Linked DNA regions of Homo sapiens: all the other regions are linked to region 1. The links come from fine-mapping of genetic effects on gene expression. A gene starts in region 1. Each other region holds a variant in brackets. All regions are shown on one strand. Distances are between the middles of the regions.

Region 1 (4,000 bases):
CCCATCTCTTCTAAAACTACAAAAACTAGCCAGATGTAGACTACTATCCGCCTGTAGTCCCAGCTACTCAAGAGGCTGAGGTGGGAGGACTGCTTGAACCTGGGAGGTGGAGGCTACAGACCCGAGATGGAGCCACTGCACTCCAGCCTGGGCGACAGAGCCAGGCCCTGTCTCAGAAAACAAACAAAAAAAGCTAAAGACTAAGCAGGATAGAATATAACTTCACTGTGCATACTCCTGAACGTTACAGATTCTGGGTTAATGACTTTAAGTAGCAGAAACCAATGAGCAAAAATAATCAAGTCAAGAGGTTAAATAAGGCGGGCGGGGGAAACTTTTGATGGACCTAGCCCTCCTAGCATACACCCAAGGTCTAATAACTTCAATTCAGGCCAAAACCAACTGTACCCCTAATGAAAACAAAACTGTTTTTGTCTTTTCACTGCATTCCAAGTGGGGAAAGCTGGAAGTGGGGGTGGGAGACGTTTCAGAAAGTCCTTAATAAGCTTGCAACACTTTGCATTCTAGCAAAAACTTTTTAGAACACAGTAGCTGTTGAAAACTTGACGCCAGCTTAACACTTCATGAGCTTTGACACACCTGGGTTACAATATCTTTGACTTAATCACCTTTCCTAGCATTCTTAAAGGTCTTAAAAAAAAAAAAAAAAGTCAAACCTTACACAGTCACTAATCCAAGGGGCCTAAAGATAAACTGCAGGGATCTGAGAATTTATCAGACTGCATACCAAATTTTGACTGGGCGGTGTTCCAGAAAGAGTTTCTATAGCCTTCAGATGTGGGGGCTGTAACCCTCAGAAAGTTAGAACAGTGCACTAGCGCCTTCCAAAACTCCCCGCCCCCAAAGCGAATTTATACAACAGTCTAGGTACACAAATTTCCATCTGGAAAGCAGAAGGGCTAAGCAAGGTAAAAAGGGGAAGCTGTTCCAGAATATGGGGAGACGACTCACAACCAACCATCTGCACGAAGGGCAGACAGTGGAAAGCAGGTTCAATCTACCTGGCAACCCCAATCTGCACCACGAGCTTAACCGGGGACAGGCAAGCCCCAAGTCCCGGCAATTCAGACCCCAGAAGAAGGACAAGCAAGGTCACCCCACCCCACGTGCAGCCTGGGAGGGGTCAGCGAGTCCCAGCGGTCCGGCAGGGGCGGGTGCACACAGGTGCGGTGCCCCGGAGCCTGCGCAGGAGCCGCAAACGGACGCGCGGGCCGTGCCAGGAGGGAGCGGCCGGTACCTGGCTTGGAGCGCGTCGAACTCCCCGCGGTGTCCAGCGGCCCCGCGTAGCACGAGCTGCTGCAGCGAGAGCTGCACCAGCGTCCGCAGCGCGATCAGGTAGAGCGCGAGCCCCAGCGCGGCGCGCACCTCAGACAGCCCGGTCCCCGCGCCCCTGCTCGCGCCGCCGCTACCCCCGGGGCTCCTCTTCCGCGTCCTCCCGCCGCCGCTGCACCCATCCACCAGAGGCTCCTGCGCTCGGGCCTCCCTCTCCGGCGGTGGCGCGGCCGCCGCTCCCTCTCGACGCTCTACTCCGACGCGGTGCCGCCTCACAGCAGCCGACTCAGAACCCCACTCCATGGCCACGAGCCTCAGCTGCCAGCCCAACCGCCCCAACCCGCGACAGCCCCGGCCGCCGCCGACGCCGCCGTCGCTGCCGCAGCGCCTCCTAGTGAGCGGACGGAAACTGCAGAGGGCCAAACTTCTTCTGATTGGCCCGTCCCGCCGCGCCAAGACCCAGCTTCTTTGGCAGTTCTCGGGTGCACACAGCTGCAGGGCCGACCCAGCAGCGGGTGGTGGATATGCCGTCTCCCGCAGGGCTTTTCCAGCCCTCTGTAGGACGGAGATTGCCAAATGTAAAGACACCTAAAAACCCAAAACGAGAAAAATGAGAGATCGCTTTTGAAAGAACACACAAGGCTCTTACAGTGCATCAGGCAGATGAAAAAAGCAATGACCTGGCTTTCGTAAGGAAGGAATATTAGAACATCAGGCTCCAAAAAAGTGGGTTCCTGGCTCTTAAAATTAGAAATAAGATTACGCAGAGGAGGCCCGGCCTATTGCTTTCACATGCATAATCTAATCAGATCTTCATAACTCAGCAACTTAATCTGTGCTATTACTGTCTCCATTTAACAGATAAAGAAAAATAATGGCTATTATTTATTGAATACCTGCTATGAGCTAAGCGCTAGGTCAAGTCCTTTAATACATCATCTTATTTAATTATCTTTAACAATACTTAAAAGGAAATATCTTTGTTCCCATTTTATAACCTGAGAAACGTAGAGATAACAGATGAAGAATGTAAATCTAATTTCATGGGCTCCCAAAACAGCATTCTGTTCCACTACTACATTAGCACTCTGCAAGTGAAGGTTCAGAAAGGCCATTCTTCACTTGACGACTCTCTGGGGCGGTTAAGCAGCAGAGCCTTGGTTTCAGTGCAGATCCTAGTGATTATCTAGTCTTCTTCCAGCTTGCCGGTACCCATGAGCCTCTCTGCTCCAAGGTTTTTTGTCCCTAGCTTGGAGTTGCTACATTAGCATGAGCATTAACCTAGAGACCAACTGGGAGAGCACACTGCCGGATTTTGACTTAGCACATATGTCAGATTTCATACAATGCCCTATAGTCCTGCTCTTGCCCACCTCTCAGGCTCCTCTGACACCAGGATGCTTCTTATTTCCAGCTCTCCAGCCACACTGGCCTCTTTCAAAGACTTCCTGCACGCATCTTTCCTTCTACAATAGGATCTTCTCACATGCTGTTTGAATTACCTGGAGTGTTCTTCTCTCTCCTCATTGTCTTTTTAACTCCTAGTTATCCTTTAAATCTCAGATTAAGTGGTACTTCCTCAAGCAAGAATCTCCTAATTTAATTAAGCTTGCTTCCCCTATTTGTAGGATCTCACAGCACCATGTTTGCATGTGACTATTTCATAACTTCCTCATTAGACTGTAAGCCCCACGAAGGCAGGAATCAGGTCTGGTTTTACTCACCATTTTATTCCTTGCTCTTAACACAAAGCATGACACATAGTATGTAGTCAATAGATATTTCTTGAGTGAATGAAAAAATGAAAACATACCACTTTTGTGGCAGCAAGCATAATTTTAGCTCTACAAGATCCCTTTCAGTCTGTAAGCACTATGAGACTAAAGACAGTGTCTATCTTATTTAATCATCACTGTATCCATAGTGCTTAGCTCTGGATAAGAGCCTAGCCCATGGTCATAACTATATGTATGTATATATGTGTGTGTGTGTGTGTGTGTGTGTGTGTGTGTGTGTGTGTGTATGTCTGACAATATCCCATGGTACCATAATAGGGAAATGCCTGGCTGCCTGGCTGTTGGGGACGGGTAGATCTGAGTTCCTGGATCTGGTACCTTTAGTACACATGGCATTATTCAAGTTACAATCTCACAGAGTCCACGTGTATTTATCTGTGGTAATGCAGATGATACCTGCCTTAAGGGGCTTCAGTGAGGATTAGATAGATAGACAGATGATAGATGGATAGATAGATGTGTGTGTGTGTGTGTGTGTGTGTGTGTGTGTGTGTGTGTGTGTGTGAAAGATCCTCACATAAGATTCTCATTAAAAACTATTTTTCAGAATTTTCCTTCTCATGAAATCCTTTGTAGATTAGATTAAAAGCTACTTTCCTATCATGATAATCATAGAACTCTAGGTGGTAGGAGTTAAGTTACAGCTGAGTTCCTGAAAGGCAGTTTTTCTCTATACTTGTATAGTCTACGGTATTCACGTTTGAATATTTTTAGCTACTAGTTGTTGGATATCTACTTGTGTCAGATACTGATTAAGGTGGAGAAACAGAGAAGAACAAATCAATGTTTCTACCTTCAGAGAGCTTACATTCTAACAAAGAGACAATGAACGCGCGCGCGCATGTGTGTGTGTGTATAAAATGTCAGAGAGTTAAGTGCCATAAAGAAAAATAAAGCAGGGAAATTGAGAC
Region 2 (4,000 bases), 29 kb before region 1:
GTTATTCTCTGCTGGACCTTCATGGTTATACGTATACTGATTGAATGACAGGGGAAATGGGGACTGCTGATACAAGTGGGGTCAGGAGGAGAAGACTCAGAAACAGCTCAGTTATCAGCACACAATGGACATTTCAGAGTCCCTTTTCATGCTTCTCTTCATTTTATTTTGCACCCATCTCAGAACCTAGAGTGACACAGGATGCAATATTTCAGGAAGGCCGAGGCACGAGAATTGCTTGAACCCAGGAGGCGGTGGTTGCAGGGAGCCGAGATTACACCACTGCACTCCAGCCTGAGTGACAGAGCGAGACTCTGTCTCAAAAACAAACAAACAAACAAACAAACAAAAAACCGTGATTGCTTGACAAGACTTTAATTGCTTTCTAGCAGATGTATTTAATAAATCCCCAAGGACTGAAGGGAAAGCTGTCTGAAATATGCATTGTGGTTCAATTCTCCATTACCCAAAGAAAACAGTCTTACTCTATTAATAAGCCACTATCATTAACACTGCTACACATAAGTAAGAAAATAATTAAAAGAGTGATAACTCATGGCATCAAAGTGCGGCAGGGCTATTTCACATTATAATGAAAAATAAGTGAGCTTTCTAAAGTATTCCAAGAGGCAGTCTTCTCTCCAAAAGCTTTCCCAATAAAATATAATTTAGATGATAAGACACTTTAATCCTCTTTCTTCTGGTTTCCAAGATTTCCATGCTTTGGGGACATTTTCCATTTCCACAATGAACATCTCCAGGGTTCATTTTGCCCCCTTTCATATTATCAGTGGAACAGAATTTAAATGTCCCCTATCTGAGTCATCTTTTATGGACATCCATAGCTCCCATTCATGACTATAATTTAACAAATAAACGGGGGTGTGGGGGCATTCAGTTCATAACTAGTTGACTTCAGATTAGATTAGAACCTAATCTATAGATAACAAAAGTCCACTGTCTCCTTCAATCCTTACAACAGCAAACCTATCAAAAATACAGATGATATAAGGGTTACTATTAAACTCAAAAGCAGCAAACCCTACAGGCAGCAAAGAACATTTTAGAACTTTTCATACAGCCCTATGAATACCAATAAGGATTATCCTTATCCTTATATTATCCTTAATAATTATCCTATAAGTAAAATGGTTGGAAGGCTCAGATCTCTTTTAAGACTAGTACAACCAACCTCAAACAATAATATGCATAAGAATTACTCTACAGGACTATATACACAAAGTCACATATATAGAGCTTTACTGGCTATAAGGGACTTCCACGGATGATGCTGACCATGTGTGTAGTGTTTTCCTTACCTGCTGTCTTTAGAACCTAACTTCCACAAAGTAAAGGGGTAACGAATGCCCTTTACTATATCAGTATGAAAAGGCTCACTATCATCTCCATGAAGAAAAGAACTATAATAAAATCATAGCTCCTTTTCCTGTTTGGTTCCCTATCCTCAAATTTCAAGGTGCACCTCTGAGTGTTCAATAATTACTTTTTATTCTTAGGAATTCCCACCAAAAGAGACCTGCATTCTCTGGAGGGGCCCATCTTGGATCGTGGAGGTGGACATCAAACCAAAGCAAAACCTTGCTTGGGGCTTACTCTGCTCAAGGGGGGTCTGGTCTTAAACTCTGCATCACTGTCTTTTCTTCCCTCTGGGAATCCCAAGGGAAGAAAAAAAGGGATGGCAAACACAGGACTCTCCTTACTAGGGCAGGACACTGATACGGCAAAATGAGGACTGACAAGGCCTGTGATCATTTCATTATTTGGTAAATGAAGGCACGTTTGGGTGTCATAACAGACTCAATTAACAAGCTTTCATGTGGTAGCAACAAGGTAGTGGAATGATAATGAAAAAAGCCTCATCAGATTTAGTCTTCCTTCACTAGCTCTAAAAGCACTAATAAAACCACCCATGTATCTATTAACATGTGC[C/T]TCTAATTAGTAATTTCAAAATATACTATTAGGATCATTCACCACCAGGCAATCTCTAACAATTAATACTTGGTAAACGCTCTACAAATTCACACTCAGGTATCTGACAGGCTATTTGAAAAGAGGTAAATCAGAGAATTTGGAAGGATAGGGAGGCAAAAAACTTTTAAACAGCAACAACAAACTCTATACTACAGTTTCTTACGATACCAAATTTACAAGATGCATGGCCATTCATTCACCATTTCTTCTGCTTCAGATTTTCTCAATAAAGTACACGTAACACTATTTCACAGAATCTAGTATGGCTAAATTCATATTCATATAAAAAATGAAGAAAAAGAAAAAAACTTATTTTCTCTTACAAAATAGGACGAGAGAATCATTGTACAGCCAGCCAAAATGGATGCCAGCACAACATCAGGTGGGATTTCAGAACCACTTCTCCCGAGGATAGGGGTAAACATCTCAAATACTGCCCAGATGAGGTACAATGCATAAAGATAAGGAATAAACATCCCCAAAAGGTAAAAAGCAATAAATTTTCCTTGGGCACCTAGGGAAAAAGAGAAAAAAAGCACACATCTATGAAATCCTCCAGTGAGATATAAATTTTTATAGTACTGGTGTGCCTTGGTACCCTAACAGAAATTAGGTTAGATGTGACTCTTGCCCTTAAGGGTGTATGTTATCTTGGAGTAGGATCTTTCACTCAGGATAAAATACAAATAAGAATAAAGCAAAATACACAAGTAATATATTAGTATGTGTTCACAAACATGAGAAAGGGATGGAGTATAAGGCATAAGATAATTTGTGTGGTATGAAAACTTTTAAAAACTAACAATTTAGAAAGCCTACCCAATAAAACCAAAAAAGAAAGAGTCCCTGAAAGCCTTAAGTATTTTAAGGTATTCTCCCATGTATATCAAAATCAAAAATACCCTACCATGCTGCTTGAAGTCCTTATGCACACAGAGCTTTGTGAGCAATGGGAATGCTACCCAGACAGCACTAATAAACGCCGAGCAAAGTCCTTGGTAAGTGAGGGTAACAAGAAAACAGCAATGGACAAACAGCGAAATGTCAAAAAATACTTCTCCCAGATACTGGGCACTGGCATTCTGAAAGAAAGAAAAATATACAAGTAGTCTCATTCAGGGGTCATGCATAAAGAGCTTTTATTATAGTAACACACTTTCCATCACTCAGGAAAGCTACATTTTGTTTTAAACACAGTCTGCTCTTTAAACTGATTTAAAGTAAACACTAACAAAGCTACCTCCCCCATCATGAAGTAGTAAATTCAAATGTAGCACAAGAAAGGGCATTTTAACAATATAGAGTATAAATGCTCCATGTACTCTATGCTTTTCTTCTACTAGGCTAAAAGTAGAAATTTTCCAAAATAGAAGAAAGGACTCTCCTAAAAAACAATCATCTCTGTAAGCTTTTCAGTTCATGCCAATTCCAAACACTGTTTCAAGCAAACTAGAGAAATGACCTGTGAAGGAACGTTAGGAACTGCTGCAGCACCACCAATAACCCACATCTGGAAAACTGCAGCACCTTTAAAGCAATCTGGAGTTTGGCTTATTTTCATGAGTTTTTTCTATCTCCAGTTGGTCTTGTACTGCACCTTTGCCCCCTTCTTGTATTCCTCATGATTTCCTATTATAAAATTTGATCTTACAGTTTTTGAGATTTAAAGTCCAAGGGTTCCTATGTAGCACCTTGCACTCTTCAAAATAAAGTTGCCATATAAACTTTTTTTTTTTTTTTTTGAGACAGGTTCTCGCTCTGTCGCCTAGGCCGGAGTCCAGTGGTGCGATCTCGGCCCACTGCAGTCTCAGCCTCCTGGGCTCAAGTGATTCTTCTGCCTCAGCCTCCTGAAGTAACTGGGACTATAGGCACACACCACTACACCCAGCAAAGTTTAAAAAAAACATTTTTTTTTTGGCAGAGACAGGGTCTTGCCATGTTGCTCAGCCTGGTCTCAAACACCTGGCCTCAAGCAGTCTTCCCACCTCAGCCTCCCAAAGCACTGGGA
Region 3 (4,000 bases), 95 kb after region 1:
CTCGTGATCTGCCCACCTTGGCCTCCTAAAGTGCTGGGATTACAGGCGTGAATCACTGCGCCTGGCCATGTTCTCCAATTTATTTTTGCTATACATTCTTATTTGTGCACATTAGATTTTAAGTCCTACCTCTGTCACTTACCAGTTGTAAGACTTTCAATTTTAACTTAGTTTTTTGAGACAGGGTCTCGCTTTGTCGCCAGGCTGGAGTACAAGTGGCACAATCTTGGCTCACTGTAACCTCCACCTCCCAGGATCAAGCAATGCACCCACCTCAGCCTCCTGAGTAGCTGGGACCACAGGCATGCACCACCATACCTGGCTAATGTTTGTATTTTTTGTACAGACACAGTTGCACCATATTGCCCAGGCTTTAAATTTTTTATTTATTTATTTTTTTTGAGACGGAGTCTCACTCTGTTGCCCAGGCCAGAGTGCAGTGGCGCGATCACAGCTCACTGCAAGCTCCGCCTCCTGGGTTCATGCCATTCTCCTGCTTCAGCCTCCTGAGTAGCTGGGACTACAGGTGCCCGCCACCACACCCGGCTAATTTTTTGTGTTTTTAGTAGAGACGGGGTTTCATCATGTTAGCCAGGATGGTCTTGATCTCCTGACCTCGTGATCTGCCTGCCTCGGCCTCCCAAAGTGGCTTTTAATTTTTAAAACATTAAAATTCCTTAATTTCCAAAACATTAAAATTCCTTAATTTTCTAAGCATCAGTTTACTTATTACAAATGAGAATAATAATAGTACTTACCTCTCAGTACGTGTGGCACATAAATATTCAACAAATGTTAGTTAATAATTGCTTTCAGTTTATGTAGGTTTTCAATTATTGTTAAGGGTTTTATGGAAGCACATGAGGGCTGTGAAAGGTATTAGAATGGGTTACCAAATGATAATCATAAAATGAATTTCCCTTTCAATCTATAAGATTGGAATGAAAAAATATCTATGTGGGGATAGTATAAAGTTCTCCTCCCTTCTCACTCTCAGTAACCTTCTCGGTCTCAGTTAATGGCTTTACTTCTTATTTCAAGAAAAATGGAGGCAATCAGAAGAGAACTTTCACATGCTCACACCTCATCTGCAACTCACCTTAATGTATATTCCTATTCTCCATCTCCCTACCTAAGCTAACACCTCCATTTAAATGCATCCTCTTACCTAATCAAGGATAACACTCTACCAAATGTCCCTTCCTTTACCTGAATCCATTTTTTGTCTACTAAATCATTTCCATCAGTACACAAACATGTTATTCTATCACACAAACGACAACAACAAAACACACTCTCTTAACCTCTTTTCCTTCCAGATACTGCTCCATTTCTCTATTCCACCTTATAGCAAAACTCCATGAAAGAGGACTCTTCCATTTCTCTCCCCTAATTCTCCTGAATAGACTTCTAAGACTTTTATCCACTCTTCTACTACCACAGCTCACCAAGGTCATTAATATGATCCTCATGTTGCCAAATTAAATAATAAATTCTTATTTCTCATTTCCTCAACCCATCATGAGCAGCCCTCCTTTATGAAACATTTTCTTTACCTGGTTTCCAAAACACTTCTCTTCCTTGACTATCTTCCTGTTTTACTGAGCACTCCTTCAAAGTCTCTTCTACTGAGTCCTACTCATCTTGGCCACTTCTACATGCTGGAAGGTCTAATGCTCGCTTTTCTTTTCTTCTCTATCTATGCTCATATACTAAGTGATTTCTACCAGCCTTATGTCTTTAAATACAATCAAGATGCTGACAGCTCCCAAATTTGTACCTCCAGACTCCCTTGAACTCAGACTCCTATACTGAACTGCTTATTCAATAACACCAATTATATGTCTAAAGAGCATATCAAAGTTAACATGTTCAAATCCAACTCTTCAATCCCCTCTACCTCTCAAATTTGCTACTCCTTGAGTTTCCCCTATCTCAGTTAATGGCAATTCCATTATTCCAGTTGTTTAGACCAAAAATAGTGGGTATCATCTTTTTCATTCCTCACTTTCTCTCATACTCCACATATCCAATCCTTAAGCAAATTCTACCAATCCTACTTTCAAGGTATATCCAGAATCCAGCCACTCCTTGGTATCTGCACTGCTACTATCCTAGTCCAAGCCTCTACCATTTTTCTCCTGGATTACTGCTATAGTATACTGGTTTCCCTGCTTTCATCTTTGTCCTATTACATTTATCTCCACCCAACAGAGTGATTGCTTTAAAACATAAATCAAATCATGTCCCTTCCCTGCTTAAAACCCTTCAATGGCTTCTCACCT[A/C]ACTCAGTGTAAAAACTCCAATTCTTAAAGATCTACATGATCTGGCTTCCTTCCTCCTTACCTCTCTGACTCTTGCCTGTTACCACATTTCTCTTCACTCGCTCTGCTCTGGTTACACTTGCCTCTTTGCATCTCCACTAAACGCCAAACATGCTATCAACTCTAGGGCTTTAGTACCTTCTATTCCCTCTGCTTTCCCCTCAGAAATCCACAGAGCTCCCTTCCTCATTTCTTTAAGGTCTCTGTTCAAACACCAACTCATCAGGGAAGCTTTCCCTGACACCTGATCAAAGAGTAACCTTCACCCTGCCCAAATCAGCCATTTCTTAACCCCCTTACCTTGCTTTATTTTTCTTCACAGCACTTTTTTTTGCCATCTGACATTTGAGTGTGTTTTTTTCCATGAGAATGTAAGTCACAGAGTGGAGACTTTGTTTAGTCAACAATATTTTCTCAGGGCTTAGAAAGAGCCTTGCACACAGTGGGCAGTCAAAAATATCTGCCGAATTACAAATGACTGGAAAACTACTAAATGATTCCAGGACATCATCCAAAAATCGTAAATTAAGGACCATAAAATAAGTAAAACAGATTATAACATTAAAATTACCTGTTTCTTTGGAAAGCCTTCATTAACTTTGGTTCCCATGGCAGCAATTCATTTAAAAGACGTATCAATGTACTATGTAATTCTTTTACAGCTTGCCTCCGATGATACCATTTTCCCTAAAAATAATGTTTAAAGTAAATCCCTTAGATTTATTCTAAAAGTAAATGTCAAAACTTATTTTCTGAGTAAAATACAAAAACACCAATACTCCATAAAAACGTATTTCTTCTTCAGAAGCTTGCAGAAAGGGGGAAAATATCCTGTAATAAATTTTATTCAATATATGTAACAATTCTCAATTCTACCAGAGAAATCTGAAACCTGTTTCATCCAACTGGAAGATAAAAATTTTAAAAATGTTTTAAAATTGCATCAATTGTAAATGTTTTAATAAATCATTTGTTAAATATATGTAAAAACACAAACATTTATATAAATTCATTAAGTAAGTATGACATGGGTCATTTCAGTAAAGTTACTGTAACTTTCCCAAAGACTGGGGAAAAGGGAGAAAAGGTAGGTTTGTTATCATGTCTAAAAGCAGTCTTTTTAACAAACTTCCTAGGAAATTTTACAATTATTTTATTTTACAATGTTTCTAGCCCAGAAAAGCAACCAAGCAGTTACTGTTTTCAATACCCTAATGCTATACTAAGAGTTAATAATTACTGATGTCCTCTCAATTTGCTAAGTTTTAACCTAGGTATTTCACATATATATATATCTAGAGAGAGCTCTAGCATTTACAAAAAGCCTTCTGAGATGTGTGCATTGTTATGTTCACTTTACAAATGATGAAAATAAGGCTCATAGAGATTAAATGACTTGCTTAAGGTCCTATAACTTAAACCCGTATCTGCCTGATTCTGAAGTCCAAGCTCTTAGAACCACATCACTACCTCTTAAAAAGTACATCACATGAATTCAATCTGACACAGGCTATAGAAACCTCTAGAAGATACACCTCACCTGTATATATAAAATTATTTGAATAACATAGGAACAATAAATTTATAGCTGCTAAGCCACAGTATATACTTATTATTACCATCACCTACTGTTACATAATCATGTTGGGTTTTTTTTTTGTAATGGCTTTGAGATA
Region 4 (4,000 bases), 28 kb after region 1:
GTGACTATTGTTTGCTCCATGTAATGCATGGTAGCTTAGTAACCTATTCCAAACATCACGGCTAGCAAGAGGTGAATTTAGACTTGACTCTAATGCCTCTGACTCCAAGTCATGTCCTCTCTCTGTGTTCCTTTTCCATTTGCTTCCTCTTTTCTTTTCCTTTTCCTAATTATTTAGCAGGAAGTCCTTCTGAAACGGGATCTTCTCTGTTCTAAACAGGACTTAATGGAATACTCTCCTTGGCAAAGACACTTTGGCAAAGGGAGCTCTTGCTACTCTCTTGGGAGTGACTTGTTCTTTTAACCTTTCAAAGCACTTCCCCAACCCTCATAACATTTAAACCTTACAAGAACCATATAGGATAATTAGGTAAAGTTATGATCCATAGTTTCAGATAAGTAAACACAGGCTCTGAGGAATTTAATAACTAATCTGAAAATCATGCAGCCTTACCCTGAGACAAAACAAGAAAGACTCTCCAGAGTTCCAATCTCTTCCTCCTGGCCTAGAAATGGCAAGTGGGCAACATCTTTTACGGAGAGAAGTTCCGAGGCGAAGTTCAGGGAATGAGAAAGACCTGTGATCAGTTGACAATGCCTGTCATGGGTGAGAAAAAGGAAAATAGAGGCACATGTGCTTGGTATTTGCTATCCCAACTTACCCATAACTATTTCAAAGCCTTAAGTTGTTTCTCACCTTAATGAGGAATTATGTTAATTCCCTTACAAGTAAGGCCTGGCACATAGTTGATGCTTACTACAGAGACGTACTATAATTTACTGAGTGACTGCTATTCCTCAGGCACTGTGCCAGGCTACATAGCTACATTCAAGTGTATCATTACTAAGTATTTAGATTTACTAAATTTAAACACAGCCTTAGATATACTTTGAAAAAACCACACCCCTGTATTACACAGGTCTTAGTACCAGAATTTTTAATATCTTAATAAAGAATTCTTACATGCTAAATAAGCTCAACTTAAGTTTATTAAGAAAGCATTGGTCAGGCACAGTGGCTTATGTCTATAATTTCAGCACTTTGAGAGGCTAAGACTGGAGGATTGCTTGAGCCCAGTTTGAGACCAGCCGGGGCAGTATAGTGAGACCTTGTCTCTACCAAAAAAAAAAAAAAGTTTTAATTAGCCAGGTGTGGTAGTGCATACCTGTAGTCCCAGCTACTTGGGAGGCTGAGTCAGGAGGATTGCTTGAGCCCAGGAAATAGAGGTTGCAGTAAGCTGTAATTGTGCCACTGTCTGCAGCCAGACCCTGTTTCCAAAAAAAAAAAAAAGAAGGAAGGAAGCATTTATATTTATAACTGGGATAAATGCACTGTCAGTATTTTAGGGATGAAGTTTACTGCCAGCAAGCACAGTGAGGGCAGGAGCTCTGTTCCATTCATCTTTATGTCTCCAGTGTCTGGCCAGCTGTACATTAATATAAATATGGATGGATAAGTGAGTAAATGAATGAAGCTCAGAGCCATAACGTATGGGCTCAATTGCTCATAACGTAACCAATGGCAAGTGACATACTACATGTTCTCTCTCTAGTGGCCATGAAAGTTGCAAGGACAATTTTATCAACTTCAGTCCACAATTTTTTTTTTTTTTGTAGAGA[T/TG]CGGGGGGTCTCACTCTGTTGCCCAGGCTGGCCTCGAACTCCTGGCCTCAAGCAATCCTCCTGCCTCAGCATCCCAAAGTGCTGGGATTACAGGCATAAGCAACCATATCTGGCCTCATTAAAAAAAAACTGTAGAGACAGTCTCCCTGTGTTGCCCAGGCTGGTCTCAAACTCCTGGTCTCAAGTGATCTTCCTGCCTCAGTCTCCCAGTAATCATGATAATGGATTACTATGGTGGCTGGTTCCCTATAAAAGGGTCATTTCACTGTCCCACCTCCACCCTCTCTCACTCTCTCTCCTTCTGTCATGTGATAATGTAGCAAGAAGGCCCTCACCAGATGCCAGCACCTTGATATTGGAGTTCCAGCCTCCAGTACTATGAGCCCATACATTTCTGTTCATTGTAATTTCCCAGTCTGTGGTATTCTGTTATAGCCACACAAAATGGACTGAGACAGGGATCTAGTAAGAAGCTATGCTCTCTGTCAAAATGTTTCTGCATTTCTGAGAGGCAGTGAACCCACAATGGCTTAGGGGGTGTGTGTGTGTGTGTGTGTGTGTGTGTGTGTGTGTGTGTGTGTGTGTGTAAAAGCTAAGAAAAAGTAAAGTACTGGAGAGGGAAAAAAAATCAGTTAATAACTCAAAGTATTATCCCAGGATGTCATCATTGGCCTTAGCTGTGCTGAATTTGGGTGAAAAAAAAGTAAGATTTAAGGAAATATATTCTACACTCTTTCTACTCAAGGTACAGGGTTGAGTTTTCAAAATCATACTTGCTGGGTTTTTTTTTACTATTTTATTGAGGTATTCAGTACCACCTTTAACAAGGAGAAAGCAGGAGCCATGTGTGTCAATCTTGATTAAAGACCTATTTGTCTTCTTTTACAGATGGCACTAAAAGCAGATTCCTTTCTCACTAAGAAGTGGACAGTTAACTGTAGACTTAGATGCACAAGACAGGGCCTCTGGAAACCTGGCAAGAGACGGAGATGGAAAGTACTAAGCCAGTAAGGGGCCCTAGGGCTCCACTCTCTTCCCAGTGCAGGCAGAGCTCTAGTGTTGACCCCAGAGAAGAGAGGAAGGGTTTTTTTTTTTTTTTTTTTTTTTTGGTCTGCCCAGAAAAAGAATAGTCCAAGGTCAAAGGATCTCAGCAGGTGCAACAGCAACATCAGGGGAGGGGGACTGCTCATTCTGTTTCTCCAGGCCACCCTGGGGAGATGGCTCCTGGCCCTTCTCTTTTCATGGGGCCAGTTGAGTGTAGTCCCTCCTGTTACCAAAAGTGGTCAGATAATCAGGGGCTGTCCCTCTAGACACAATCCAACCACTAGTCCTTTAAAAGTTAAAGTTTTTTAAAAAATCACATTTTAATTTTTTTTTTAAAAAAAGTATGTATGTATGTATGTATTTATTTATTGAGACAGGGTCTCCTTCTGTCACCCCAGCTGGAGCGCAGTGACACAATCATGGCTCACTGCGGCCTCTACCTCCTGGGCCCAAGTGATCCTCCCACCTCAGCCTCCCAAGTAGCTGGGACCACAGGTGTGTGCCACCATGCCTGGTTAATTTTTAAATTATTTTTGTAGAGATGGGATCCCCCTATGTTGTCCAGGCTGGTCTTGAACTCCTGGCCTCAGGTGATCCTCCTGCCTCAGCCTCTCAAAGTGCTGGGATTACAGACATGAGCCACCATGCCTGACCTACTTATTTATTTATTTTAGAGACAGAGTCTCACTCTGTCATCCACACTGGAGTGCAGTGGTGCAATCATAGCTTATTGCAGCCTCGAACTCCTGGATTCAAGAGATCCTCTCACCTCAGCCTCCCAAGTAGCTAGGACTACAAGTGTGTGCCACCATGCCCAGCTAATTTTTTAATTTTTTGTACTTTTTATTTTTTGTAGAGATGGAGTCTCTGTGTTGCCAAGGCTGGTCTTAAAGTCCTGGCCTCAGGCTGTCCTTTTGCCTAAGCCTCTTAACATGCTGGGATTACAGGCATGAGCCACTGTGTCAGGCTAAAAATCACATTTCTTCATTTTATACATAACATTGGTGCCTAAACCAAAACCCTTGTATTATCATCAAGGGTCATCCTTGATTAACCGGCTTAATCCTTAAGGCCCACAACTGATCACCAAGGTGAGTTCTCATTCCAAAGGAGTGTCTACTTGTTGGGGCCATGGGTTGGTTCTCAGGTCCTATAAATGGACTTGTCCCAGGAGCCCCAACCAAGACTGTGTGACAATCCAATAAAATGCAATAAGAAAGCCAGAATCCAATGGTCTCCCTTAAATGAGGCAGTGTTAATGGAGCAGACAGAGATTTATGTGCAAGAGGAAGAGACTAAAACATCTGTTTGTGGTAGTGCAAAAATTCAGAGAAAGT
Region 5 (4,000 bases), 98 kb before region 1:
ATGTTTGGTAGAATTTGCCAATGAGAAGCCATCTAGACCTAGAATTTTCTTATTGTGGATTTTTTTGGACTACTGATTCAATTCAGTTTTTAAAAATATACATATATATAATGTATATATTTTAGATATATATATTTAAATATTATAAATATATATAATATATATTTTAAATATATATATATATTTATTTTATTTTATTTTATTTTTTGAGACAGTCTCGCTCTGTCGCCCTGGCTAGAGTGCAAGAGCGTGATCTTGGCTCACCGCAACCTCTGCCTCCTGGGTTCAAGTGATTCTCCTGTCTTAGCATCCTGAGTAGCTCGGATTGCAGGCATGCACCACCATGCCCGGCTAATTTTTGTATTTTTAGTAGAACGGAGTTTCACTGTGTTGGTCAGTCTGGTCTCAAACTCCTGACCTCGTGATCCATCCACCTCGGCCTCCCAAAGTGCTGTGATTACAGGTGTGAGCCACTGGGCCCGGCCCAGTTTTAAAAATAGATTTAAGAAGATTCAGATTTTGTATCTCTTCCTATGTCATTTTGGCAAGTTGCATTTTTTCCAGGAATTGGTTTCTTTCTTATACACCTTCAAACTTACTGGCATAAAGTTTATAATACCCTTTTTATTTCACATTGTGAAACAAAAATATGCATACAAAGTAGTACATAATCCAGATATTCATAGTTTTAACGTTGTAGTAGAAACACCCATCTCTTCACAACTGGATCAGTAAATAGAACATTACTGGTCTCCAGTCACAAACTGCCTCTGCTACTTCCTAGTCACAACTCTTATTCCCTCCTTGACTCACTTAGTAACTGGTCAACATTGTGAGATTCATCCATGTCATTTACCAGTAGTTGTAATCATTTTTTAAATTGGTTTATAAATAACGTTCCATTGTCTGAATATAGCATAATTTATCCACTTTGCTGTTGACATACTTTTGCCTTATTTCTTGGTTTCTAAAAAAGGAGACATTCTCTTGTATAATTGGAATATCTTTATCACATGAGATAATTAATGATAAATCCCTAATAGGATCTAATACCCAATTTATATGCAAATTAACCCAGTTGCCACCAGCTAAATTTCTTCTATAGCTCCTTTGTTCCAAACAGAATCGATCAAGATTCATTAATAATATTTGGTTATTATTTCTCTTTAGTTACCTTTTAACTACAATAGTCCTTATGCCACTTATTTTCATGACATTGACTTTTTTTGAGTCTGAGTCGATTCTTTATAGAATATCCTGCATCCTAGATTTGCCTTATTGTTTCCTCATGATGGCATTTACCTTGTTTATCTGACACCTGTCGTGACTAACCTGGAAGCTAGTTCTTGTTGAGCAATACAGTCAAGTGACTAGAAAGCCCACACATCAGGCATGGAAAAGTATTTAGAGAAAATACACAGAGACAGAAGCAGTGGCAAGTGTGCAGTTCCATTTACTGCATTTGGGGCCAGCACAAGGGTGGGTGTTAGAATCCAGAAGAAGTACTCCTCCCTAGGCTATGGGCTTATAAGCTACATGATTGGGAAGTACTAGCCCTTCCCAGGATAATGTAGGTAGACTCTTGGCCTATAGCTTTTCAGTCACCTCAGTTTTCATCAGCTACGAGACTACAAGTTCTCTTCTAGCATGCCCATGGGTTAGGGTTAAAGTTTTGTGATTCTAGCTGTTGACATAACAAACCAGTGTCTGCTAGTCCAGATCTGCCAACACTTATCAGGACTAATTACCTTGAACACTAGGTGATAGCTGGTGTCCTTAGAGTTGTGTAAGAAGCCAGCTTCCTTTTAGGATGCCAGTTTGCAGCAGATCAGTATTTTAACAACCTTCCTGTTAACCTAAATATTTAAAGGTATTACTAGATTCTGGTTACACATTTTGTCATGGGTGATGATATATATTTCCTATGGTATCATTTAGTAATAATGTCAAGTTGTTTCAGTATTAATGACACTAAATTTGATCACTTATGGTGA[T/C]AATAGTCATATCTCTCTTATAGAGATTTGCTTTGGAGTTAGTAAGTCCTGTCTTTTTAATGAAAATATATTTTTCTGTTACATTGGGCTGGTGAGAAATGGAAGGAAAAGTAGTTTAAAGAATACAAGCACTATAGAATACCTAAAAGATTGTCAGACTTTTATAAGTAGTAACTTAGCACCTACTTCTTATATTTAAAACATGGACTCCTCACTAACATTTTAGAGCTCAGCAACCCAGGGTTAGCAGTTGACAGTTGTCAGATGCAAAGCAAAAACAAACACCTGCTACCCACTTAGTGCTGTCTCTCAGCAAGAGTTGATCTATTTGGGCAGGTAGTCTGGAAAGAAATCTTTTTCAGATATTTGGCTTCTGGGTATGATTGAATGACAGATGACATTTTCCCTCCCACCTGATACAGCCAAGAAAACGGACAAAAATATGAAAGAGCTGTTTTGAATTCAGAACACAAACATAAGGTAACAAGGGACAGTGATTTCTGAAAGATGAGAAACAAAATTATCTCTCTGTAACTGCCCTTAGTTTTTATTATTTTGAGTGTTTGTAGGCTGCAGCACAGGATTGGGGAGATACATCCTGAGCTGAGATAAGCACATGGAAATCAGAGAATCTGGGAAAACCAAGGCAGCTAGAGTTCATAATATAGACACCAAAGAGGTGGCACAAAGAGAGAACTTCAGAGAGCTGTAGAGGGTCTCTCTTGAATATTAAACTGAGACATGGAAGATATTAGAAAAAGACTGAAATTAAACTTCTAGAGGTGAAAACTATGATGTCTGAGATGAAAAACATACTGTATGGAACTAACAACAGATTAGACATTGCAGAAGAGAAGATTAATGAACTTGAAAAACAGAAATTATCCAAAATGGAACACAGAAAAAAAAGAAAACAAAAACAGAGTATCAGTAAGCTGTGGGACAACTTTAAGGAGGCTACTATTGCAGGTCTTTTAGTTAGTCCCAGTTCTAATCCTTGAGAAGAGGTAGGACCTGGATGGGAATGGATCAAAGCTGCTGTGAAGAAACCATCTGATTTCTCCTACCACCAAAAAAAAAAAAAACAATCTGGTAGTCATAAACCAGTGTCATCCTATTATGTGCAAAAGCATTCTTATATTAAAAAGTGTCTTTAAGAACATTTGTTTCTCTTTCTCACTATAAATGTTGCATAAGTAATCTAAAACAGGAGCCTCATTTTCAAATGCTGAATGTGCATTAAATTTTTGAACTGAGAATATACCATGAGCAGAAATGAGACTTTTCTGTTATCCTCGTAGTTCAATTTTGAAATGTGGCTTAGACGTATTATAGAGATTTTACTTCTGGCTTCAGGCCCTTCAGAAATTTGACCCTTGTAAAGATGTTTTAAATTAAGTAATTATATATACCATATACACAAAAAAGCATATAGATTTTAAAAATAAAATGTTTATAAATTACCATCCAACATAAGAAATAATACATCACCAGTGCTGATGAAGCCTCCTGTTTACCCCTCTTCTTTGATACTCCCTTCTCCACCAGAGTATCACTAATCTGAAATTTGTATACATTAACTCTTTGTTGTATTTTTACCACAAATATATTTACTATTAATACTGTATATCTACTATATATATATCAAATATGTATGTTTATATTTACTATGCTTTTACACACACACATGTTTTATATCTTAAACGTATATACTGTTGACCGTTGAACAGCCCAGGGGTTAGAGGTACCAACCCCCCAACACAGTTGAAAAATTTACATATAACTTTTGACTCGCCCAAGACTTTTAACTACTAATAGCATACTGTTGACTGGAAACCTTACTGACAATATAGTCAATTAACACATACTTTTTATTTTATATATATTAATATTATATATTGTATTCTTACAATAAAGTAAGAGAAAAGATTATTAAGAAAATTATAAGGAAGAAATAATGTACTTACTATTGATTAAGTGGAAGTGGATCATCTTAAAGGTCTTCA
Region 6 (4,000 bases), 85 kb before region 1:
AATTGGCATATTATCTTCTTTTCTATGATTCTTGTGTTTCTTTTTAATTTATATTAAATTTATACCAAAATTTTATTTCTCAACGGGTTGTGTTTCTTTGGTCTTATTTTTTTAAAAGGGTCATAAGCAATTTGACGGAAAGCAATGTTTATATATTTATTTAAATAATTTGAGTAATTTAGTCTTTATCTGAATAGCATTTCCCAAAGTGTGTTCCTCCAGGCACTACTTATGAGAGATATTAGTAGCAGTTCCACAGGATTTTTTAAAAGTTTTGTTTCCATATAAGTGTCAAATAAAGGTAAAACAAAATTGTAGAGATTGATTGTAGGGCTCCAGAGGCTTAAATATGCCATTGTGCATCATGAAAATCCAGGAGGTGGTATATTAAAAACAGTGTTCCCCATGCTTATTTAACTGTGAATTTTTAAGAAATAGCTTAAAGAAAGTATGTCTGAGGACTTGCTTTTAGAAACACCGCCCCAAACACTGCCTCTTGTATTTCTATCTGAAATAGTGTATACTAATATTATTATATATCGCTAATATACAGTAATGGTATATGTTACATGTTAGAAATGTGTATCTTAATACCTACCATCAATGGCTTTTTAATGGATATTTGGTACAACAAATTTCTAATTAAAATTTACGAACATCCATAAAAAATGTGAAAATAGCCTGAATTTCAGATCCATTATTCCACTTGAAGACTAAGGATCCCCAGAAAAGAAGAGAGCATTTCTCCCTCCCCTTCCCCATCCCAAATAATAATTTAAAAGCACCCTTGAGTTTTATGTCAAGCCAGCATTTGGACTAAAATGGAAAAATGACAAGGGTAGGGTGCTACTTTGTCTGATTTCAATAGTTAATGAGTCTACTCACCTTTGAGAACACTGGCTTTCTAGCTGAAATCTCATAGTCACTAAGAGCACTATTCTTTCTAATTATAACAGTGCATGAGATTATTGTGTAGTCTTTGTCCTCTGTGAAGAAAATCAACATCGAGATACATGTACATTTCCTATAATAAAACTAAATCGATGTGTTATTTTTGCCTGCGTAATATTGAGTTGTTTTTATTTGTTTTCCTCCTTTGCCCTTTTGTTCCTCTTTCCCTCATTTAGAGTAACCAAGAGCAGGTGTTGCTTCAGGGTGAGGATCGCTTGTACTTGAACTGTGGAGAGGCTTCACAAACCCAGAATCCCAGGAGTTCTTCAACACACTCTGAGCATAAGCCCAGTCGAGAAAAGAGCCCATTTGCAGATGGAGGTTTAGAGTCTCAGGGATTAAGCACTTTACTTGGACATCGGCATTGGCATGTTGTACAGGTAAATCTTTAGTTACTGATTACTAGAGACTTATTCTTTGATAGGATATCACCTGGAACAGATTATTAAATATTTCATCTGTTAACTTCAGGCAACTGAGAATCCTTTTAACCATTTTGTCATGTCCCTCTTCTGCTTTTCTGTGTTCTTGTCCTCTAGTCTTCTCCCTCCTTTCTTTCCACTTGGCGTAGAGTGTATCCCCACCTGTTTCAAGTCTATTAATAATGTCAAGAACTAGAAGTTTATGTTTTGCCTTCTCATTGAGAACTATTTATTTTACTTTCAGCCTCTTTTTTT[G/A]TATAAATTTAGCTCTACGGATTTGCACAGGCAAAACAAAGTGTAATAATCTCATGGAAAGTGGCAACATCAGCTAGTACTCTGTACAGCTGACCTTACAGTCTTAAGGGGCCACGTTGAGGTTAATCATGTGACTTTGGACCCAAATTGCAGACTTGTGATCAGTAGAGAGCTTTATTGTTAATACTTTTATTAGCTAATCTTATTCCAAATTATTTATTCATTCTGATATCACTTTTAAATTAACAGTGTCTCACAGTAATTCTGATAAACTGACATTTAACATGGAAATTAATTCTCAATTTTGATACCAAGTAAAATTATTTTGGGGAAACCAGTAAGTTGAAGTTTCTTAAAAGAAACTTGCATACATAATTTCAGTCTTCCGACTGTTTTCTTTCCCTTTTTGATAGCAAAATATTTTAGGTACATCAAAGCCCACTCTTAGTTTCTTTTAGTCAGTTTCTGTTTCCATAATTCTTTGCCTTACTTTGACTCTCTATATGTTTACCCTACTAGCCTACTTCAGCTCCCATGTTATTTTCAGTTGACTTTGAGTGAAGATAATGAGAGACAAAAAAATGGTCATGTGAAAGGTTGAAGGATTATCTCCTACATTGACATCTGGTATACACTAAAAGAAAATGAACTTAACTTACATTAATAAATTCATAGAATCAAACAATGTACATACCATTTTATAATTAGTAACAATTTTTAAATAAAACTGCACTAGCTACTTCCTTGACTAAAATTTTCCACTGCTCCCTTCTCTCCTATAGCCATTTCTCTGCTATTTTCATTTCCCCATACTTTGAACTATTCATTCTACACTGACCTAGCATCAATGCCAGTTCTGCCTAGCCAGGTCTGTGTTACCAGAGAGCCAAGTAGAGCAGAGGATCAAAGAAGGTAGGTCTGGAACTAAAAAATCGATCAGGCAATAACAAAAATTGAATTTCCTTCCAGCTCAAAAACTCAGTGATTCTGTGATTCTTAAGCATCTATGAAGTACCCCATATAAGAGAAACATTTTAACACTGATTTTAGGACTTTGGGTACTAGCAAGATTCCACTGTTATTCTGTTCTTTAGATAGCTAAAGATATTTAGACAGATGAACTTTTAAAACTTGAGTTTACCTAGTTTATCAGTTTCCTTAAAAATAACATAAATAATGCCACATTGATTGTTTTGTACTGCTGAAACAATGAAAATGGGCTCATAGAATTTTTCAAGCTGGAAGGACCTAAGAGATCATAAAGTCCAACTGGATTTGATACATGAGGAAACTGAGGATCAGAGAAGTTATATGACTTGTCCAGTTCACCCAGCAGAGTAGTGGCAGACTTATCTTTATCATCACTCTACGTTAAAGTAAAAATCTAATGTATTTTAAAACCGAGGTACTGAGCATTAAATCACATAATACACCACTGACCTTGAGCTAAAACTTAGAATTCGCCTATTTGGCAGTTTGTACTTGGAGTTGCCCTGTATTTCGCTGGCACTCCAGCTACATGATTCAGTGCAGTTATGGTGGCGGTGTATAGGGCAGTATACAGTGTCTATATAATGCTAAACTTTTACGTTCTAGGCTTTTTAGCCATTTATGATGACTCCCTGAAGAAACATAGTTGCCTGGTTTAATTTGCCCCACAATAGTATCCTTTTTTCTAAGATAAGTGACCACATCCTCTGTCAAAGTTGATTTTGTTTGCGTGATTTATTCGTTGTATGTATGCTTCTTGTATAGCTTAGATGAACTCCAACTAATTCTGCTGCTTGTTCTGTTTCTCATTTAGAGTACTAGCTTTTTGTTTGTTTGCTTAAACCTGCTACCTTATACTCCTTAGCTTCCAGATTGGAAGATTCTATGTTACTTATGATTTTTCTTTAACTAAAACAAAACAAATACATACTTGTCAGAAGCAGGATTGGTAACTGGCAGTAAAGGCGGTGCTTTTTTTTTTTTTTTTTTTTTTTTTTTTTTGAGATTGAATTTTGTTCTTTGTTGCCCAGGCTGGAGTGCAGTGGCGTGATCTCAGCTCACTGCAACCTCCACCTCCAGGGTTCAAGCGATTCTGCTGTCTCAGCCTCCCAAGTAGCTGGGATTACAGGCACCTGCCACCATGCCCGGCTAATTTTTGTATTTTTAGTAGAGACGGGGTTTCACCATGTTGGCCAGGCTGGTCTCAAACTCCTGACCTTGTGATCCACCTGCCTCAGCCTCCCAAAGTACTGGGATTACAGGCGTGAGCCACCGCACCCAGCCAAAGCAAGCACCAGCAAGCACCAGCCAAGGTGCTTTTTAAAAAGTTTTTTCTTACCTATAAGTTTTAAAACTTTTGAAGTCATTTGTTGACATATGGG
Region 7 (4,000 bases), 49 kb before region 1:
TGAATAACTACTTTAAAGTTCATATGGAACCAAAAAAGAGCCCACATAGCCAAGACAATCCTAAGCAAAAAGAACAGTGCTGGAGACATCACGCTACTGACTTCAAACTATACTACAAGGCCACAGTAACAAAAACAGCATGGTACTGGTACCAAAACAAGATATATAGACCAGTGAAACAGAACAGAGACCTCAGAAATAATACCACACATCTACAACCATCTGATCTTTGACAAACCTGACAAAAACAAAGAATGGGGAAGGGATTCCCTATTTAATAAATGGTGTTGGGAAAACTAGCTAGCCATGTGCAGAAAGCTGACACTGGATCCCTTCCTTACACCTTATACAAAAATTAACTCAAGATGGATTAAAGACTTAAACGTAAGACATAAAAACCCTAGAAGAAAACCTAGGCAATACCATTCAGGACACAGGCATGGGCAAAGACTTCATGACTAAAACACCAAAAGCAATGGCAACAGAAGCCAAAATAGACAAATGGGATCTAATTAAAGAGCTTCCGCACAGCAAAAGAAACTAACATCAGAGTGAACGGGCAACCTACAGAATGGGAGAAAATTTTTGCAATCTATCCATCTGACAAAGGGCTAATACCAGAATCTACAAAGAACTTAAACTTACAAGAAAAAAAAAAAACATCAAAAAGTGGGCAAAGGGTATGAACAGACACTTCTCAAAAGAAGACATTTATGCAGCCAACAAACATATGAAAAATAAGCTCATCACCACTGGTCAGAGAAATGCAAATCAAAACTACAATGAGATACCATGTCACGCCAGTTAGAACGGCGATCATTAAAAAGTCAGGAAACAACAGATGCTAAAGAGGATGTGGAGAAATAGGAACTCTTTTACATTGTTGGTGGGAGTGTAAATTAGTCCAACCATTGTGGAAGACAGTGTGACGATTCCTCAAGGATCTAGAACTAGAAATATCATTTGACCCAGCCATCCCATTACTGGATATATACCCAAAGGACTATAAATCATTCCACTATAAAGACACATGCACATGTATGTTTACTGCAGCACTGTTCACGATAGCAAAGACTCAGAACCAACCCAAATGCCCATCATCAATGATAGACTGGATAAAGAAAATGTGGCACGTATGCACCATGGAATACTATGCAGCCCTAAAAATGGTTGAGTTCCTGTCCTTTGCAGGGACATGGATGAAGCTGGAAGCCATCATTCTCAGCAAACTAACACAAGAACAGAAAGCCAAACACCGCATGTTCTCACTCATAAGTGGGAGTTGAACAATGAGAACACATGGACACAGGGAGGGGAACATCACACACCAGAGCCTGTCAGAGGGTGGGGGGCTAGGGGAGGGACAGCATTAGGAGAAATACCTAATGTAGATGACAGGTTGATGGGTGCAGCAAACTGCCATGGCACATGTATACATATGTAACAAACCTGTACATTCCACACATGTACCCCAGAACTTAAAGTATAATTTTAAAAAATTTAAAAAGAGTCGTAACTGCATCTTGGCTAAAAACAAATGTAAATAGCCATAACTGCATCTTGACTTTATTGGCCCTAAAAGAAGAAGAGGAGTATTAGGTTAGAAGTTGTTCAGCTGCTTCACCTTGCATTGAACTGTTCTGAGAGAATTCACTCAAAGTTTAAATAACTTGCACAGAGATCTCTGAACTCAAAGTTCATGCTCTATTTTGGTGAGTGGTGGTGCCCTTTCCTTCTGTGGAGATTAGAATAAGCAATGAGTCACTCTGGCTGAAAGGCAACTTCTTCCCTCCCTCCTACCCTTACTCCCAAATAAAAGAACGCCCTTTACCCTTTGCTATTTTTTTGCTAATGGGGATGATTTAAAACTCCTACATAGGTGAAGCTCAACATTTACCTAATAATTTCTGTGAAATTCAGAAGTACCATTTCATTCTAAGATAAAGGATTCTAACTGAAGTAAACATTTCCATGTTGAGTTCTTTGCTCACATGAGCCATCTAGGTCTTTTAACAGCAATTAAAAGGCTCTGTGGACATGGAATAACCCTTGAAAATATGGGGATACAGAAGAACACAGATCTGTTTTTCAGTTAAAAAGATACCAACCAGTATATTAAACAGTTTATTTCAGTAACATTGTAAGGCAACAATTAATCCTCAGTAAGTCAGCAAACCAGTGACAAGAAATTGACAAACACTCCTTCTACAGCTTCCTGAGACAGCAGGCTGGCTTGTGGCCCCCTGGGTG[G/GT]TAACATCTTAAGGAATCCTATCATGTTTGTTTATATATGCTAAACTGTAAAAACAAACACTTCATGCGACAATCATTCTTAGGTCAAACACAAGAACGAACTATTTTGAAATCAATTCCTCACACTTTTTCCCTGAATATGCAGTACTGTACTACTAACATCTAATTCTGTAGAAAATAATGCATTTGTTAGTGACTTTGTTAGAGCTTGAAAAGACCCTTTTAGAAATTATTTAAATGATCACTCTTTAAAAATTTTTTTTAATCTCAGAATCTACTAATGTGACAGACAAACGGTATGCTTAACAGAGTCATAAATACTGTGTATAATTGCTTGACCATTTCTGGCATTTAAATGACCTCCCAGAATATTACACAAGCCCTGAGACTAGTGAGCATCTTACTACTGACCTTGTACAATACCAAAGCTTCATAATGCTAAAGAAAACCAAAACAAAAGACAATGGTTTACACAGGGAAATAACCCTAAGGCAATATGAAAACAGTCATAATTTATTACTGATAAAGAGTAAAGGCATCCTTCCCATAGAGGGGGGGAATTCACAGGGAACACTAATTATATCAGATGAACCACGGGGATAGAAAATAGGCCCATTTTTAAAATTCATTGAGAAATTATTACTTTTTCTCCACAACTGTGATTCTATACAAAATATAAACCCTGCAAACCTTATGTGCTACCTGACAGATAAAAGTAGCAGGAGCCAGACTCTTGAAGCACTTGAGACTGATTTCTACAAAGTCCAGGAAGAGCAATGATTCCAGTGTGCAGTGCTGATGCATGTGTGAGCCTAACATGTTATTCAGCTCTGGTTGCAGCCCCATCTACATGGGCCCAGTTAGTTTTTAGGGAGTCACAGATTAGGCAGGCAACGAGGGGCATGATTTAAAAAGCACATCATACACATGAGACAAGCAGCTTCAAGGACGTTTTCTCCGGCAATGCATACTTACTGTGCTCTTTCTATTCAGACAGATCCACAGACCACCTTTCAAGAGCATTCCTCTCTCATTTCCTCCATCACCCAAGATAAATCTAGCCACCCTTTTTTGTTAACTGTGCCTTTTCTTTCAACTTTTTGTCCTTGTTAAAACTCAAAATTTGTCCAACGTTTCACATTTCCTAATGATAAAAAGAAAGCTTGCACAGTTTACCATTGATCTCACCAATGCCCTCACTGCTGGAACCAAAAAGCCATGAGAGGTACTGCTGTGATACACCTTACAAGCTACATAGCCATCTTCAAAATGAAAACCACCTTTTAAGTCCTCATGCTGCCATTACGCAGGATCTGAACCACCTACACGTACAGTGGTCTCATTCCAGTATAAGCCACAACCTCAAGTCTCAGGAAAGCCAGTCTGCTGGATAGTAAGTTACTGAGAAAAACTAATCTATTCAACTGGCTGGAAAACAAAAAGATAGGCCCAGTGCATCAGTAAGATTATACCATGAAGGACTAACCTTGTATAACACAAGACTCCTATGAAACAAAGAAAAGAGAATAAATATTTATAAAATTCCCACCACTCCCAGCCTTCCTTCTACCCCAGAATAGCCCAGATGGCAGCTCAGTGCTCTGAGGAAGGAAGTTAAGGTCATGTACTGGCACAAACAATATTCTGAACCAAAAGAACCTACGAAAACCAGAGGGGTATGTGGCCAAATATTCCCCTTTTCAACTTGGTAAGATGGAGAGGGGTAACAGACATGTTTCAGAGGAAAACA

The links.
Region 2: its variant is fine-mapped to the expression of ERMP1 in whole blood (TOPMed, PIP above 0.99).
Region 3: its variant is fine-mapped to the expression of ERMP1 in esophagus mucosa (GTEx, PIP 0.97).
Region 4: its variant is fine-mapped to the expression of ERMP1 in esophagus mucosa (GTEx, PIP above 0.99).
Region 5: its variant is fine-mapped to the expression of ERMP1 in lung (TOPMed, PIP 0.97).
Region 6: its variant is fine-mapped to the expression of ERMP1 in whole blood (TOPMed, PIP above 0.99).
Region 7: its variant is fine-mapped to the expression of ERMP1 in atrial appendage (GTEx, PIP 0.99).

Annotation. Positions count from the first base shown.
Region 1 is chr9:5,831,432-5,835,431 of GRCh38, forward strand. It overlaps ERMP1 (endoplasmic reticulum metallopeptidase 1), which reads right to left and starts at 1,686. Exons shown (of 15, transcript NM_024896.3): 1 at 1,259-1,686. The coding sequence starts at 1,596. RefSeq lists silencers at 1,253-1,472, 1,553-1,772.
Region 2 is chr9:5,802,712-5,806,711 of GRCh38, forward strand. It overlaps ERMP1 (endoplasmic reticulum metallopeptidase 1), which reads right to left. Exons shown (of 15, transcript NM_024896.3): 9 at 2,900-3,074; 10 at 2,316-2,506. Among named protein-coding and RNA genes, the nearest start is that of ERMP1, 28 kb to the right of the region's middle. The variant C/T (reference allele first, on the strand shown) is at 1,951.
Region 3 is chr9:5,926,149-5,930,148 of GRCh38, forward strand. It overlaps BRD10 (bromodomain containing 10), which reads right to left. Exons shown (of 8, transcript NM_001017969.3): 6 at 2,896-3,011. Among named protein-coding and RNA genes, the nearest start is that of MLANA, 37 kb to the left of the region's middle. The variant A/C (reference allele first, on the strand shown) is at 2,286.
Region 4 is chr9:5,859,015-5,863,014 of GRCh38, forward strand. It overlaps a transcript of ERMP1 not described here. Among named protein-coding and RNA genes, the nearest start is that of ERMP1, 28 kb to the left of the region's middle. The variant T/TG (reference allele first, on the strand shown) is at 1,620.
Region 5 is chr9:5,733,919-5,737,918 of GRCh38, forward strand. All of the region lies in intron 7 of RIC1 (RIC1 partner of RAB6A GEF complex), which reads left to right. Among named protein-coding and RNA genes, the nearest start is that of ERMP1, 97 kb to the right of the region's middle. The variant T/C (reference allele first, on the strand shown) is at 1,995.
Region 6 is chr9:5,746,175-5,750,174 of GRCh38, forward strand. It overlaps RIC1 (RIC1 partner of RAB6A GEF complex), which reads left to right. Exons shown (of 26, transcript NM_020829.4): 12 at 1,128-1,331. Among named protein-coding and RNA genes, the nearest start is that of ERMP1, 85 kb to the right of the region's middle. The variant G/A (reference allele first, on the strand shown) is at 1,629.
Region 7 is chr9:5,782,461-5,786,460 of GRCh38, forward strand. It overlaps ERMP1 (endoplasmic reticulum metallopeptidase 1), which reads right to left. Exons shown (of 15, transcript NM_024896.3): 15 at 2,112-4,000. Among named protein-coding and RNA genes, the nearest start is that of ERMP1, 49 kb to the right of the region's middle. The variant G/GT (reference allele first, on the strand shown) is at 2,251.